Regions from separate parts of the Homo sapiens genome. Here region 2 is linked to region 1. Evidence: fine-mapped expression QTL. A gene starts in region 1. The other region holds a variant in brackets. All regions are shown on one strand. Distances are between the middles of the regions.

Region 1 (5,368 bases):
GAGCCCAGCCGGTACCCAGTTCTGTCTTAACTCAGCCCCACAAGCTGGGGCGCCAGACTTTGATACACCAGGGGCCACAAGAGGGCGCCCTGAACCCTCTCACTGAACCACCTGTTAGCCAAACCTGGAAGGACGAGGTGACCCAGAGTGGGGGTAAAAATGCCTGTGGTAAAAATACTGGGGTCCAGCTGCAGCTCTGGCCTCAGTAAAAGGATGACAACATGAAAGGGAGCTTCACCCCAGGCCCTGCCCAACCTGACTCCCTGCTTGGCCCTGACACCCCCCTACTCATGGCACCCCACTCATCCCTGACCCATTTTAGCTTCACCATCACCCTCAGTTTCATAGCTGCAGAGAGAAAGGGCATGGAATCAGAGGAGGCTTAAGGATCAGCATACTAGGGTTCAAATCTCAGCTCTACTAGCTCCAGCCAAGTTGTCTGGGGAGCCTCCTGACCCTCAGTTTCCTCATCCAAAGAATGGGGACATCTGGGTGCATTGGCTCACGCTTATAGTTCCACCTACTCAGGAGGCTAAGGTGGGAGGATCGCTTGAGCCCAGGAGTTTGAGACCAGCCTGGGCAAGACTTTATCTCTAAAGGTGAAATAGGCCGGGCGCCATGGTTCACGCCTGTGAGCCCAGCACTTTGGGAGGCCAAGGAGGGTGGATCACATGAGGTCAGGAGTTCAAGACCAGCCTGGCCAACATGGTGAAACCCCATATCTACTAAAAATACAAAATTAGTCAGGTGTGGTGGCACATGCCTTGTGGTCCTAGCTACTCTGGAGGCCGAGACAGGAGAATCACTGGAACCTGGGAGGCGGAGGCTGCAGTGAGCCAAGATGGCACCACTGCACTCCAGCCTGAGCAAGACAGAGCGAGATACATCTCAAAAAAAAAAAAAAAGATGAAATAAATCTGTAGTCCCAAGTAGGAAGCTGAGGCAGGAAGATCGCTTGAAACCAGGAGTTCGAGGCTGCAGTGAGCTATGATCACACCTGTGAATAGCCATTGCACTCCAGCCTGGGCAACAGCAAGATCTCTAAAAGCAAAAGAAAAGAATGGTTACAAATAAATGTATCCTGCAGGGTGGTCCTGAGGAACACTGATGGTGTTGGAGAACATCTGATTCAGGGTGTGGTGTACATTGGGCTTTCAGCTGATGGGCTACGTAACTGGGTATGAGACTGCAAAGCCAGACGGAGCTGGCATATGGTGTTTTTTTTTTTTTTTTTTTGAGATAGACTTTCGCTCTTATTGCCCAGGCTGGAGTGCAATGGCGCGATCTCGGCTTACTGCAACCTCTGCCTCCTGGGTTAAAGCGATTCTCCTGCCTCAGCCTCCTGAGTAGCTGCGATTACAGGCATGTGCCACCACACTCGGCTAATTTTGTATTTTTAGTAGAGACGGGGTTTCTCCATGTTGGTCAGGCTGGTCTCGAACTCCTGACCTCAAGGTGATCTGCCTGCCTCAGCCTCCCAAAGTTGTAGGATTACAGGCGTGAGCCACCAGGCCCGGCTGAGCCGGCATACCTTATATGAAGCTGTGGCAGGGACACGTGGGCTGGGTGCTGACACAAGTGTCCAGAGCTGTCCTTCTGCTCAGCCAGGGAGGCCGGAGGAACTGATCTGGGAGGCAAAGGGTGCAACTCGATTGATCCAAATATATACGTCCACTCACTGACACTTAGGGGAGGGGTTCCAAGCAGAGGGCAGGAGGGCAGCACCAGCGAGGATTCCTCAAGTATTGTCATCCCAGGCCTGCAGAGAGGAGAATGGAAGGGTTTTAGGCAGGGGAGATACAAAGTCATCGCAATCTGTATTCTAGGAGCATCCCCTACTCTGTGGAGATGGGGTAAGGGGAGCAGGATAGGGATTGAGAAGCCGTTGTGGCTGGGGAGAAGAAAACGAGGTATAGGCCGTGGGAGGAGTGGGGAGGAAGGGTCTGAGGTGCTACCCATCTCTGGCTGGGTCCCTGTCACTGGGTGGCAGGGAGCAGGGTCTTGGGTATGGTCTGGAACCAGAGGACGTGTACTTGTGGTCATAAGGCTGGGGGAAAAGATTCCAGGGCCCTGGAGAAAGTCAGTGCTTGAGGTGTGGACAGGAAATTTCGGAGGAGGGCTCAGGCGCCCATGAGGTCAGGAGGCTCTAGACAGAGAGCCCCAGAGCCACCAGAGGAAAAGGAACTCGAGAGAAAGATGGAGGAGCAAACAGAGGGAGGGGAAGGGGGCAGGAGGTGCAGCTCCCCCAAGAGGGGGGGCAGGAGGTGCAGCTCCCCCAAGAGGGGTGGCAGCCCTCTTGGGAAGATGAGGACAGAGCCCCAGGGAGGCCTGGGGTTGGCAAAGGGAGCCTGCAGTTTCTTTGTGGGTGCGGGGGCCTCAAGGGCTACGAGTCTGAGCTGTGCGTGTGTTTGGACAAGTCCCCAGAGTGTGTGTCTTCCTGGGGTTCCTAGACTGCGAGTGGCAGTGGCCCGGCGGCGGAGGCCGTTTGGATCCCTGTGTGAGCTGTAGGGGGCGCCCTGGGCGTCGGGCCCAGGTCAAGTGCGAGATAGGAACGGGGTGCGGGGGCCGATGAGAGCTCCCCGCGGGAATGTCCGCTGTGGACGCCCTCGGAGGCCCCATCTAACTCCAGGGCGGCGAGCGTGGCCGGGCCCAGTTCACGGGCTGCTCGAGCCCTGACGAGGCAGCTGGGGGCTGTCTGGCGTCCACGCTCACGTTCTGGGCCGGCGGACCCCGTACCGGCCAGGCCGTGGCGGCCACGGGGGCCCGGAAGCGCCGCCGCCAGCTGGCCCCGCACGGAACTGTGTCCCGACGCGGCGCGCGCTGTCGCGATCCGGCGGCGGGTGACGTGGCGGGGCGGGGCCTGAGCTGCCGCGGCGGCGGCGGCGCGACCGAGCATCCTGGCGGCGCCGGGCCACTGGGAGGTAACGGGCTGGGCCATGGGCGGGCGCGCCGGGAGCGGGGCCGGGGCTGGGCCGCGTTCTGTGGGAGCCGAACCCTGTGGGTCTTCGCTGCCGCCGTCGGGAGCGGGATGCGGCCCAGAAACAGCGCGGGGCTGGCCGATCGGGGCCGCGCGAGAGGCGCTGCGGGTGAGGGGGGGCGCCACGAGGAGAGAGGGACCTCGAGCGTGAGGGCCGAGTGTGGGAGAAACGCTGTATGGGTGCGAGCCCCGGAGGCTGATGGTGACCGCGAGGGAGCCAGTCTTGGGGTGTGCTGGCGACGCGGCGAGTGTGAGGGAGACCGGGGGTGTGTGTGGAGAGGGAAACCCCAGGTGCGAGGGTGACCGGGACGCTGAGTGCGCGGGCCGCGCCGCGAGCGTGAGACTGTGCGACGGTGACCCTGAGTGGGGCTGTGACTGCGCCTCCGACTGCAGGACGGAGAACCTGTGCTGTGTGGCGGCCGCGGTGGGGCAAAGAAAGACGCGGGCTCAGGACCTCAGGAGCCAGGCTTCCTGGGGCTGTCGCAAGAATGACGATTATCATTTTAAAATCAGTCCTTTTACTTTAGAGAATGCCGCAAGGTTTTGTGGCGTGCTGGAGCCTGGAGCGTTGGGCTGCTGGCGCTGGGGAACCCGCGTGCCCCTGGTGATTATGGCTCTTTTGAGCGTCCCTATAGCCTGTCATCTTGTGTGACTATCTCTCCTGAATGTGGGGAGATAGACGTGAAACATTCTGAAAATTCTTTGCTGGGCTCTAAGCAAACATGTTGTGTAATGGTCAGTATAAATAGGAATCAGGGTGTCGGCGAACACGTTTTTGAGTACCTCTTGTATGCCCTGGGCTTGGTGACACAGTTAAAAAGAATTCAGTCTCTGCCCTTGATAGGGGAAAAAGCCAGGGCAGCTCATCTCGCAGGGCGGCTGTTCAGTGCCCAGCCATCCGGGGCTTGTCTCTCAGAACTGCTCCCAGATTTCAGATCTGGGAGGAGCAGACTTGAAAGGCTGTGAGTACTTCCTTATATCAGTTCCACCTCTTTTTGGTGGCGGTGAGGCCTTTTGGGGACCTGCCCAGGCTGCCTGCATTACTCAGGTCCCATGTGTGCTGCGCAGACGGCTTTTGCTTCCCAACTTTGATCTCAGATCGTTATTCAAGTCGTTACACTGGAGTTTATTTTCCTGGCAAGTGTGTGGAAAACCACCAGCCTGATTTTCTCCTCTCTTCCTCTCCTTGTCCTCCTTCCCTATTTGGCCGTGGATGTATTTTTATTGCATATACCGGTTTTATGATCCCCATCTCCCTGGAACTTCTTAGTAGAAGAAATTTCCTGACCTTTGTGCTTCCTGCTGTAATTTCTTGGATGTATATTAGTTTCTAAAAAAGTTATGCAGGCCGGGCGCGGTGGCTCAGTCCTGTAATCCCAGCACTTTGGGAGGCCGAGGCAGGCGGATCACGGGGTCAGGAGATCGAGACCATCCTGGCTAACATGGTGAAATCCCGTCTCTACTAAAAATACAAAAATTGAGCCAGGTGTGGTGGTGGGCACCTGTAGTCCCACCTACTCGGGAGGCTGAGGCAGGAGAATGGCTTGAACCCGGGAGGCGGAGGTTGCAGTGAGCCAAGATTGCGCCATTGCACTCTAGCCTGGGCAACAGAGCGAGACTCCATCTCCAAAAAAAAAGAAAAAAAGTTATGTAAACGGTGCCCACGGGACCTGGGGCCCCAGAGCTGCCTAGACTTACATGATTTAATGTGACAAGGCCAGTTCTCTGACAGGTTTGGGCTGGCTACTTCAGTTATACCCACCCTGTGGGTGTCATGGAACCTGCTAGTAATTAGGACTGCCCCTGCCGGGCATGTAAAATTTAGATTTTACAAGGAAATATCATTCTGCTGCTTTCTTGGTTAATTAAAAATAATTACATATATATATATATTTAAATCAGCTTTCTCAGGTTAAAAGAGTTCATTTTTTGATCAGTTCCCTCCCACTCTTTGTTGCAGAGTTTATGTGGCCGAGGCAGACAAGTGGAATTAGGCCTTGCTGCAGGGGACTTCATTTCCTTCTCAGTACTGGACCCATTTATGAGGAGGTGGCTTATGAAAGTGTGATGTTCGCGTATTTCTTGACAGGTGAATATTGTTGCGCTGTCTTTTCTTTTGTTTGTGTGATTTACAAAGAGTTTTTACTTGTATACAGTGTGAATACAATACTAGTAAACAGAATGGCTTACACATAATTAACAACTCTTTAGTATTACATATTAAATAACACTGTAATTTATTATAAAAATAAATTATACATTTATTTATATTACAATTCTTTATAAAGAGTAATTGTGGTGGGTTTTTTCTTTTTTTTTGGAGACAGTGTCTCACTCTGTCACCCAGGCTGGGGTGTGGTGGCGCAATCTCTGCTCACTGCAACCTCTGCC
Region 2 (5,368 bases), 32 kb after region 1:
GGTGAAACCCTGTCTCTACTAAAAATACAAAAAAAGAAAAATTAGCTGGGCATGGTGGCACGTGCTTGTAGTCCCAGCCGCTCGGGAGGGTGAGGCAGGAGAATTGCCTGAACCCAGGAGGCGGAGGTTGCAGTGAGCCGAGATCGCGCCATTGAACTCCAGCCTGGGCTACAGAGCGAGACTCCATCTCAAAAATAAAAAAAGTAGTGTCACCTTCCCTCTGCTCAGCCTAGTTGTGATAGATGGACTTCTTTTCTAGCCTTTCCCTGACACCCTAGCCTCCCCCTGCTCTAGTTTGCTCTCCAGTCTGGTGTCAAATCCCGTCAGGCCCTTACCTCAAAGCCACAGCTGACTGTGTTTGTTCAGACTCCACAGTGTGGCCTTGTATGCAGGTTCTTCCCAGCACCCTCTTCTCACACAGCTTGTCCTGGGGCTCTAGGCATTCTACATCAACCTCCAAAGAGGCCACGCTCTTTCATACCTCCACACATTTTGCCTATGCACATGCTCGTTTTTTCCACCTACCGACTTGCTTCTGGAAACTCTTCTTTGCATCTCTCCTCTTGCAAAGCATTTTGGCACAAGCCTCAAGCCTAGCGAGTGAGTGTCGTGTACTCCAAGGTGATGCTGACCATGCTGGGGACAGTTCATTTCTGTGCCAGTCTTTTTTTGTTTGTTTTTGAGATGGAGTTTTACTCTTGTTGCCCAGGCTGGAGTGCAATGGTGCGATCTCGGCTCACTGCAACCTCCGCCTCCTGGATTCAAGTGATTCTCCTGCCTCAGCCTCCCGAGTAGCTGGGATTACAGGCATGTGCTACCGCGCCCGGCTTATTTTGTATTAGTAGAGACAGGGTTTATCCATGTTGGTCAGGCTGGTCTCAAACTCCCGACCTCAGGTGATCCACCTGCCTCGGCTTCCGAAAGTGCTGGGATTATAGGCATGAGCCACCATGCCTGGACGCTGTGCCAGTCTTTTTCCCAGTCGGTAGAGCTCTTTAGGTGTAGAAAGGAAGCCTGGGTTGTCTCTCTGACCCTCAGTCTTGCCTTACATCAGCTCAGGGAAAATATATGGAGGGCATGAACAGAAATCTGGCTGCCCTTTAAAAGCTATTATGTTAGCTATGAATCTGGCATGGATTGGGTGAGTCTGTTAGTGGGTGACAGCAGGGTGAGGCATCTGTTGGATGTTGGTGAGGTATCTGTGGCTGAGAGAAGAGGGGGTATCTGGGTGATGGTGGGTGGGGCATCTGGGTAGTGGTGAGGTGCCCGGGGATGAAGAGGGAGGGAAAATCTGTAGGGAAGGGGGGAGCAGGGAGGTTGGACTGGTGATGCACTAAGGACCTGGGATGCTCCTGGGAGGCTGCATCCTGCTTTCCTCGGGGGCTCTGAGCTGAGTTTGTCCAAGTGAGGAGTGAGTATGGCTGAGTAAAAGGAGTAAAGGATCCTGCTGACACATTTCTCATCCTTCTAGGTTGTTCTTCGTGGGCTCCCGGGAGGGCCACCTACCGGACCTTCTGTCCATGATCCACATTGAGCGTTTTACACCTATCCCTGCTTTACTGTTCAATGTAAGCTTTGCTGGGACCACGGGGCTCAGGTGGATCTGTGCATTGCTCCTTCTGATTTGTGCTAAGTTGTTAAATAAGAGGGACCCTGAGAAAGGCCTTACTCTAAGATGTGAAAAACAGTTCATTTTTTGTTGTCATTTAATTCTTTTATGGTTTTATTACGTTTAATTTTGGATTAATCTGGAATTTATATTATAGCATAGTATTGAGAAAGGTGGGGATTCACTTAATTTTTTCTCGAATGGCAGCCAGCTATACCAATATCGCTCACTCAACAATCCATTTTCCCACAGTTTTCAAACTTTTATCACAGAAAATTAATAGCTAATTTTTTTAGGGTCCTTAATATGTGCCAATTATTATTGTATGCCCCTTAAATGTGCCATCTCAACTAATCCTCCCCATCAGCACCAAGTCTCCTTAGTTTAGCTTTATACTGACTATCTGAAAACTAAAGAGGGACCAAGGGTACTTCTTTAGTCCCCCCGCCCTTGGAATTTTCCTAGCAATTCTCATATTCGTTTATTTGTCTTGATGAACTTTTCTATCATTTCATCAAAGTAAGAGAAAAATTCTCTTGATATTTTGACAGGGCCAGCATTGAATTTATAAATTTAGGAGGTTATCTGACTATAGGCACACACCACCAGGCCTGGCTAATTTATTTTTTGTAGAGATGAGGTCTCACTATGTTGCCCAGGCTGGTCTTGAGCTCCTGGGCTCCAGTGAGCTGCCACTTCAGTCTCCCAAAGTGCTGGGATTATAGGCACAAGCCACCACGCCCAGCCTTCTCTTCTTAATACAGGGTTCTCCCTTATCTCCACAGAATGAGCTATTTGGTTTTAAATCCTTTGTTGATAATTTGTAATGAAAAGATTATTGAAGTTTAAACACATTTGACCTTGTCCCAGGACCCTAGGCCCTAATCCTTGCCTTCTAGGATTCTTTTGTTCCAGAAGCTAATGCTGTCTTATGTCTGGATGGATCCATTTTGCTAGTTTCCAGGTCCAACACCTGACTTCAGAGGCCTGAAATGCTACAATTTCTCCCTCTGGCTCAAAATTCTTCCATGGGGAGAGAGTTAGATTCCATTATTTATTGACATTATTTAGTCCAGATGGGTAGGGATCCAATTGCTAGTTAGCATTTCTCAGGCCTGAGGACAGTGAGATGGTTCTGAAGGCGTTTCCCCCATTTGTATGCCAGGCAGTCGGGACCCAGGTCTAACCCCTCTCTAGGACACCGTGTAATCCATGTTAAGGTTGCTGCACTGAAGTGAGGAGGGCCTCAGC[G/A]TCTGCCTTTTTCTAAAGTGCTTGCAACAAGGGGGAGGCATTGAGTGGAGGAAGGGCTGCAACAGAAGGGGGAAAGATGCTACCCTGAGGGTTAATGTACCTCAGGGTACATCAAGGAATGGACCTATCTGATGCCAAGGGGTCAATGAAAAGAGCCAGAGGTAATCTGGTGAAGTGGCATCAGATCTAGTACTGACTGCTGGGTGGGGGAGTCTCCTGGGGGCGCAGGTGGTGACGATGCTCACCTGTCTCCCCACCCCTTTCCCACAGTGCACCATGGCACTCATCTACCTCATCGTGGAGGATGTTTTCCAGCTTATCAACTACTTCAGCTTCAGCTACTGGTTCTTCGTGGGCCTGTCTGTTGTTGGACAGCTCTACCTCCGCTGGAAGGAGCCCAAGCGGCCCCGGCCTCTCAAGGTCAGCAGCTCTGGCCAGACTAGGAGGGGTGGGCCATCTCCCTAAGGTGGCTTCTTGCCCACGAGCTGTTTCCTCTTCCCACGTTACTTAATCTCTCACCCCCTCTATTTCAGCTGAGCGTGTTTTTCCCCATCGTGTTCTGCATATGCTCCGTGTTTCTGGTGATAGTGCCCCTCTTCACTGACACCATTAATTCCCTCATTGGCATCGGGATTGCCCTTTCTGGAGTCCCTTTCTACTTCATGGGTGTTTACCTGCCAGAGTCCCGGAGGCCATTGTTTATTCGGAATGTCCTGGGTGAGCTTCTCTGTGCCCCATTACTCACTGGCGGCTATGTGTGCATGCGCATGCAGAGGTGGGGGGTGGCTAACAGCTTCCCCATACTCAGAATTTGCTGGAGGCCATGTGACCCAGCTGTCCACGACTTCCCTTTTGATTTTGACATGATCACTTTAGTTCTAATTTTAGTGTCCTATTTTGGGGCTAAAACATTACCTCCTGACAACACAAATCACCTGGGAAGATGAGTTGTGCATCAGACTCTGGTTGGGCATGGGACAGAGGATGATGAGGCTTGTTGGGAGACAGGGGCAAAGCCTGATATAGGGTACTTAAGGGGCAGGTGGCGAGGGAGCCATAGATGTTACTAGTCAGCCTTGTTCAGGTTAGGGCTGTAGCTAGATGTTTACTAAACCCTGTGCTTGCTCTATTTTCATTTAGCTGCTATCACCAGAGGCACCCAGCAGCTTTGCTTTTGTGTCCTGACTGAGCTTGATGTAGCCGAAGAAAAAAAGGATGAGAGGAAAACTGACTAGAGGTCAGAGGTGGCTTTCTGAGGCCTGGAAGGCAGGCCAACCAGCAAAATCCTGATAACAAGACTCTGTGGGCCCAACTCTCCTGAATTAAAGGAGCCTTTTGACCCAATCATATAGTGGGGCTCAGGGCCAGTGCTCACTCTTATTGGTAAGCTATAGGAGACTCAGGATCTGGGCCAACCTCAAGGTGGGGGCTTCAGAGGGTGGGGGGAAGATTGGGGAACGGGGGGAATGGTCATTTAGTTTTACTCCTGATAGGTAGATGCAGCTCTTACAGATATTTACTTGGTAAAGTGCAGTGGGGAAGAGGGAATGCTAGGTTGATAGGGCTGGTGGCTTCTGAATTTGGTATTTGAACTAGGAGTCCCTATAGAGGGGCTGCTTTATGGGAAGTTTTTCTCTGACCAGGTACAACACCTGACTTTAAAGGCCTGAAATGCTACCATTTCTTCCTCTGGCTCAAAATTCTTCCCTGGGGAGAGAGTTATATTCCCTTATTTATTGATATTTAGTCCAGAACACCAGTTCTAACGAAGCATGCGTGTCTCTTCATCTACAGGATGCAATAGGCTGATTGTATTTAAAAATCAAAGTACCCAAAACTGAGTCCCTTTGGGCTCAGAAATGTCTGTGGTATTGGGTCAGACTCTGACCACAGGTTTTATGCTGTTTAGCACAATTTCTATTGAGTCTTACCTGCAACAATGAACCTTAAAGATTTTTTTACTCACGTACCTGTTACACTTTAGCATACAGATAGATCATAGATCACGTTACAAGCACTTGGCTCAGGTCCAGCAAGGACAGATGAACAAATTCCTGAGTCAGAAGTCTGTTAATATTGCTGTTTTGAAGGACAATCCTTTATTTTACTTGAGACCTTACATCTTTGTTCTAGCTGACAGTAAATCTCTGGGTTTCTGTTACGAACTCTAAGAGGGCTGAAACTTCTGATATTCAGGTGGATCACCTGAATTCTCTCAGCTGTCAATGGCTTGGAGAACATCTCATGGGCCCAAGTCATCAAATAACCTGTTCCTCTCTGTAAGGGCAGTGTGAGGGACTGCTGTGCAGACCCAAGCAATCCCAACCTGGTGCTAGGTCATTTCACTTTTCTGAAAACCTCACATCAGGCTGCATCCTCTTCTGTCCCTGGCACCAGGCTTTGTTTACACTTGGAGCCACCTTGGTGTGGGTCACCGGGACAGTGTACTCCTCTCCTGCCAGCCTCCCCTTCCCCGAGGTGTGGTGGCTGCAGTCTCAGGAAGAGCTT

The links. PIP is the estimated chance that this variant, and not a neighbour inherited with it, causes the effect.
Region 2: its variant is the best candidate, but not a certain one, in a credible set for the expression of SLC7A6 in whole blood (INTERVAL, PIP 0.88).

The regions. Positions count from the first base shown.
Region 1 is chr16:68,261,656-68,267,023 of GRCh38, forward strand. SLC7A6 (solute carrier family 7 member 6) reads left to right here and starts at 2,871. Exons shown (of 11, transcript NM_003983.6): 1 at 2,871-2,921; 2 at 4,938-5,066. LOC124903704 (a long non-coding RNA gene) reads right to left here and starts at 2,802. Exons shown (of 3, transcript XR_007065096.1): 1 at 2,713-2,802; 2 at 1,532-1,759; 3 at 1,006-1,041. RefSeq lists a silencer at 2,757-3,036 and an enhancer at 3,409-4,608.
Region 2 is chr16:68,293,234-68,298,601 of GRCh38, forward strand. It overlaps SLC7A6 (solute carrier family 7 member 6), which reads left to right. Exons shown (of 11, transcript NM_003983.6): 8 at 1,472-1,568; 9 at 3,131-3,280; 10 at 3,394-3,577; 11 at 4,001-5,368. The coding sequence ends at 4,095. It overlaps SLC7A6OS (solute carrier family 7 member 6 opposite strand), which reads right to left. Exons shown (of 5, transcript NM_032178.3): 5 at 4,801-5,368. Among named protein-coding and RNA genes, the nearest start is that of SLC7A6OS, 15 kb to the right of the region's middle. RefSeq lists a silencer at 4,753-5,047. The variant G/A (reference allele first, on the strand shown) is at 2,861.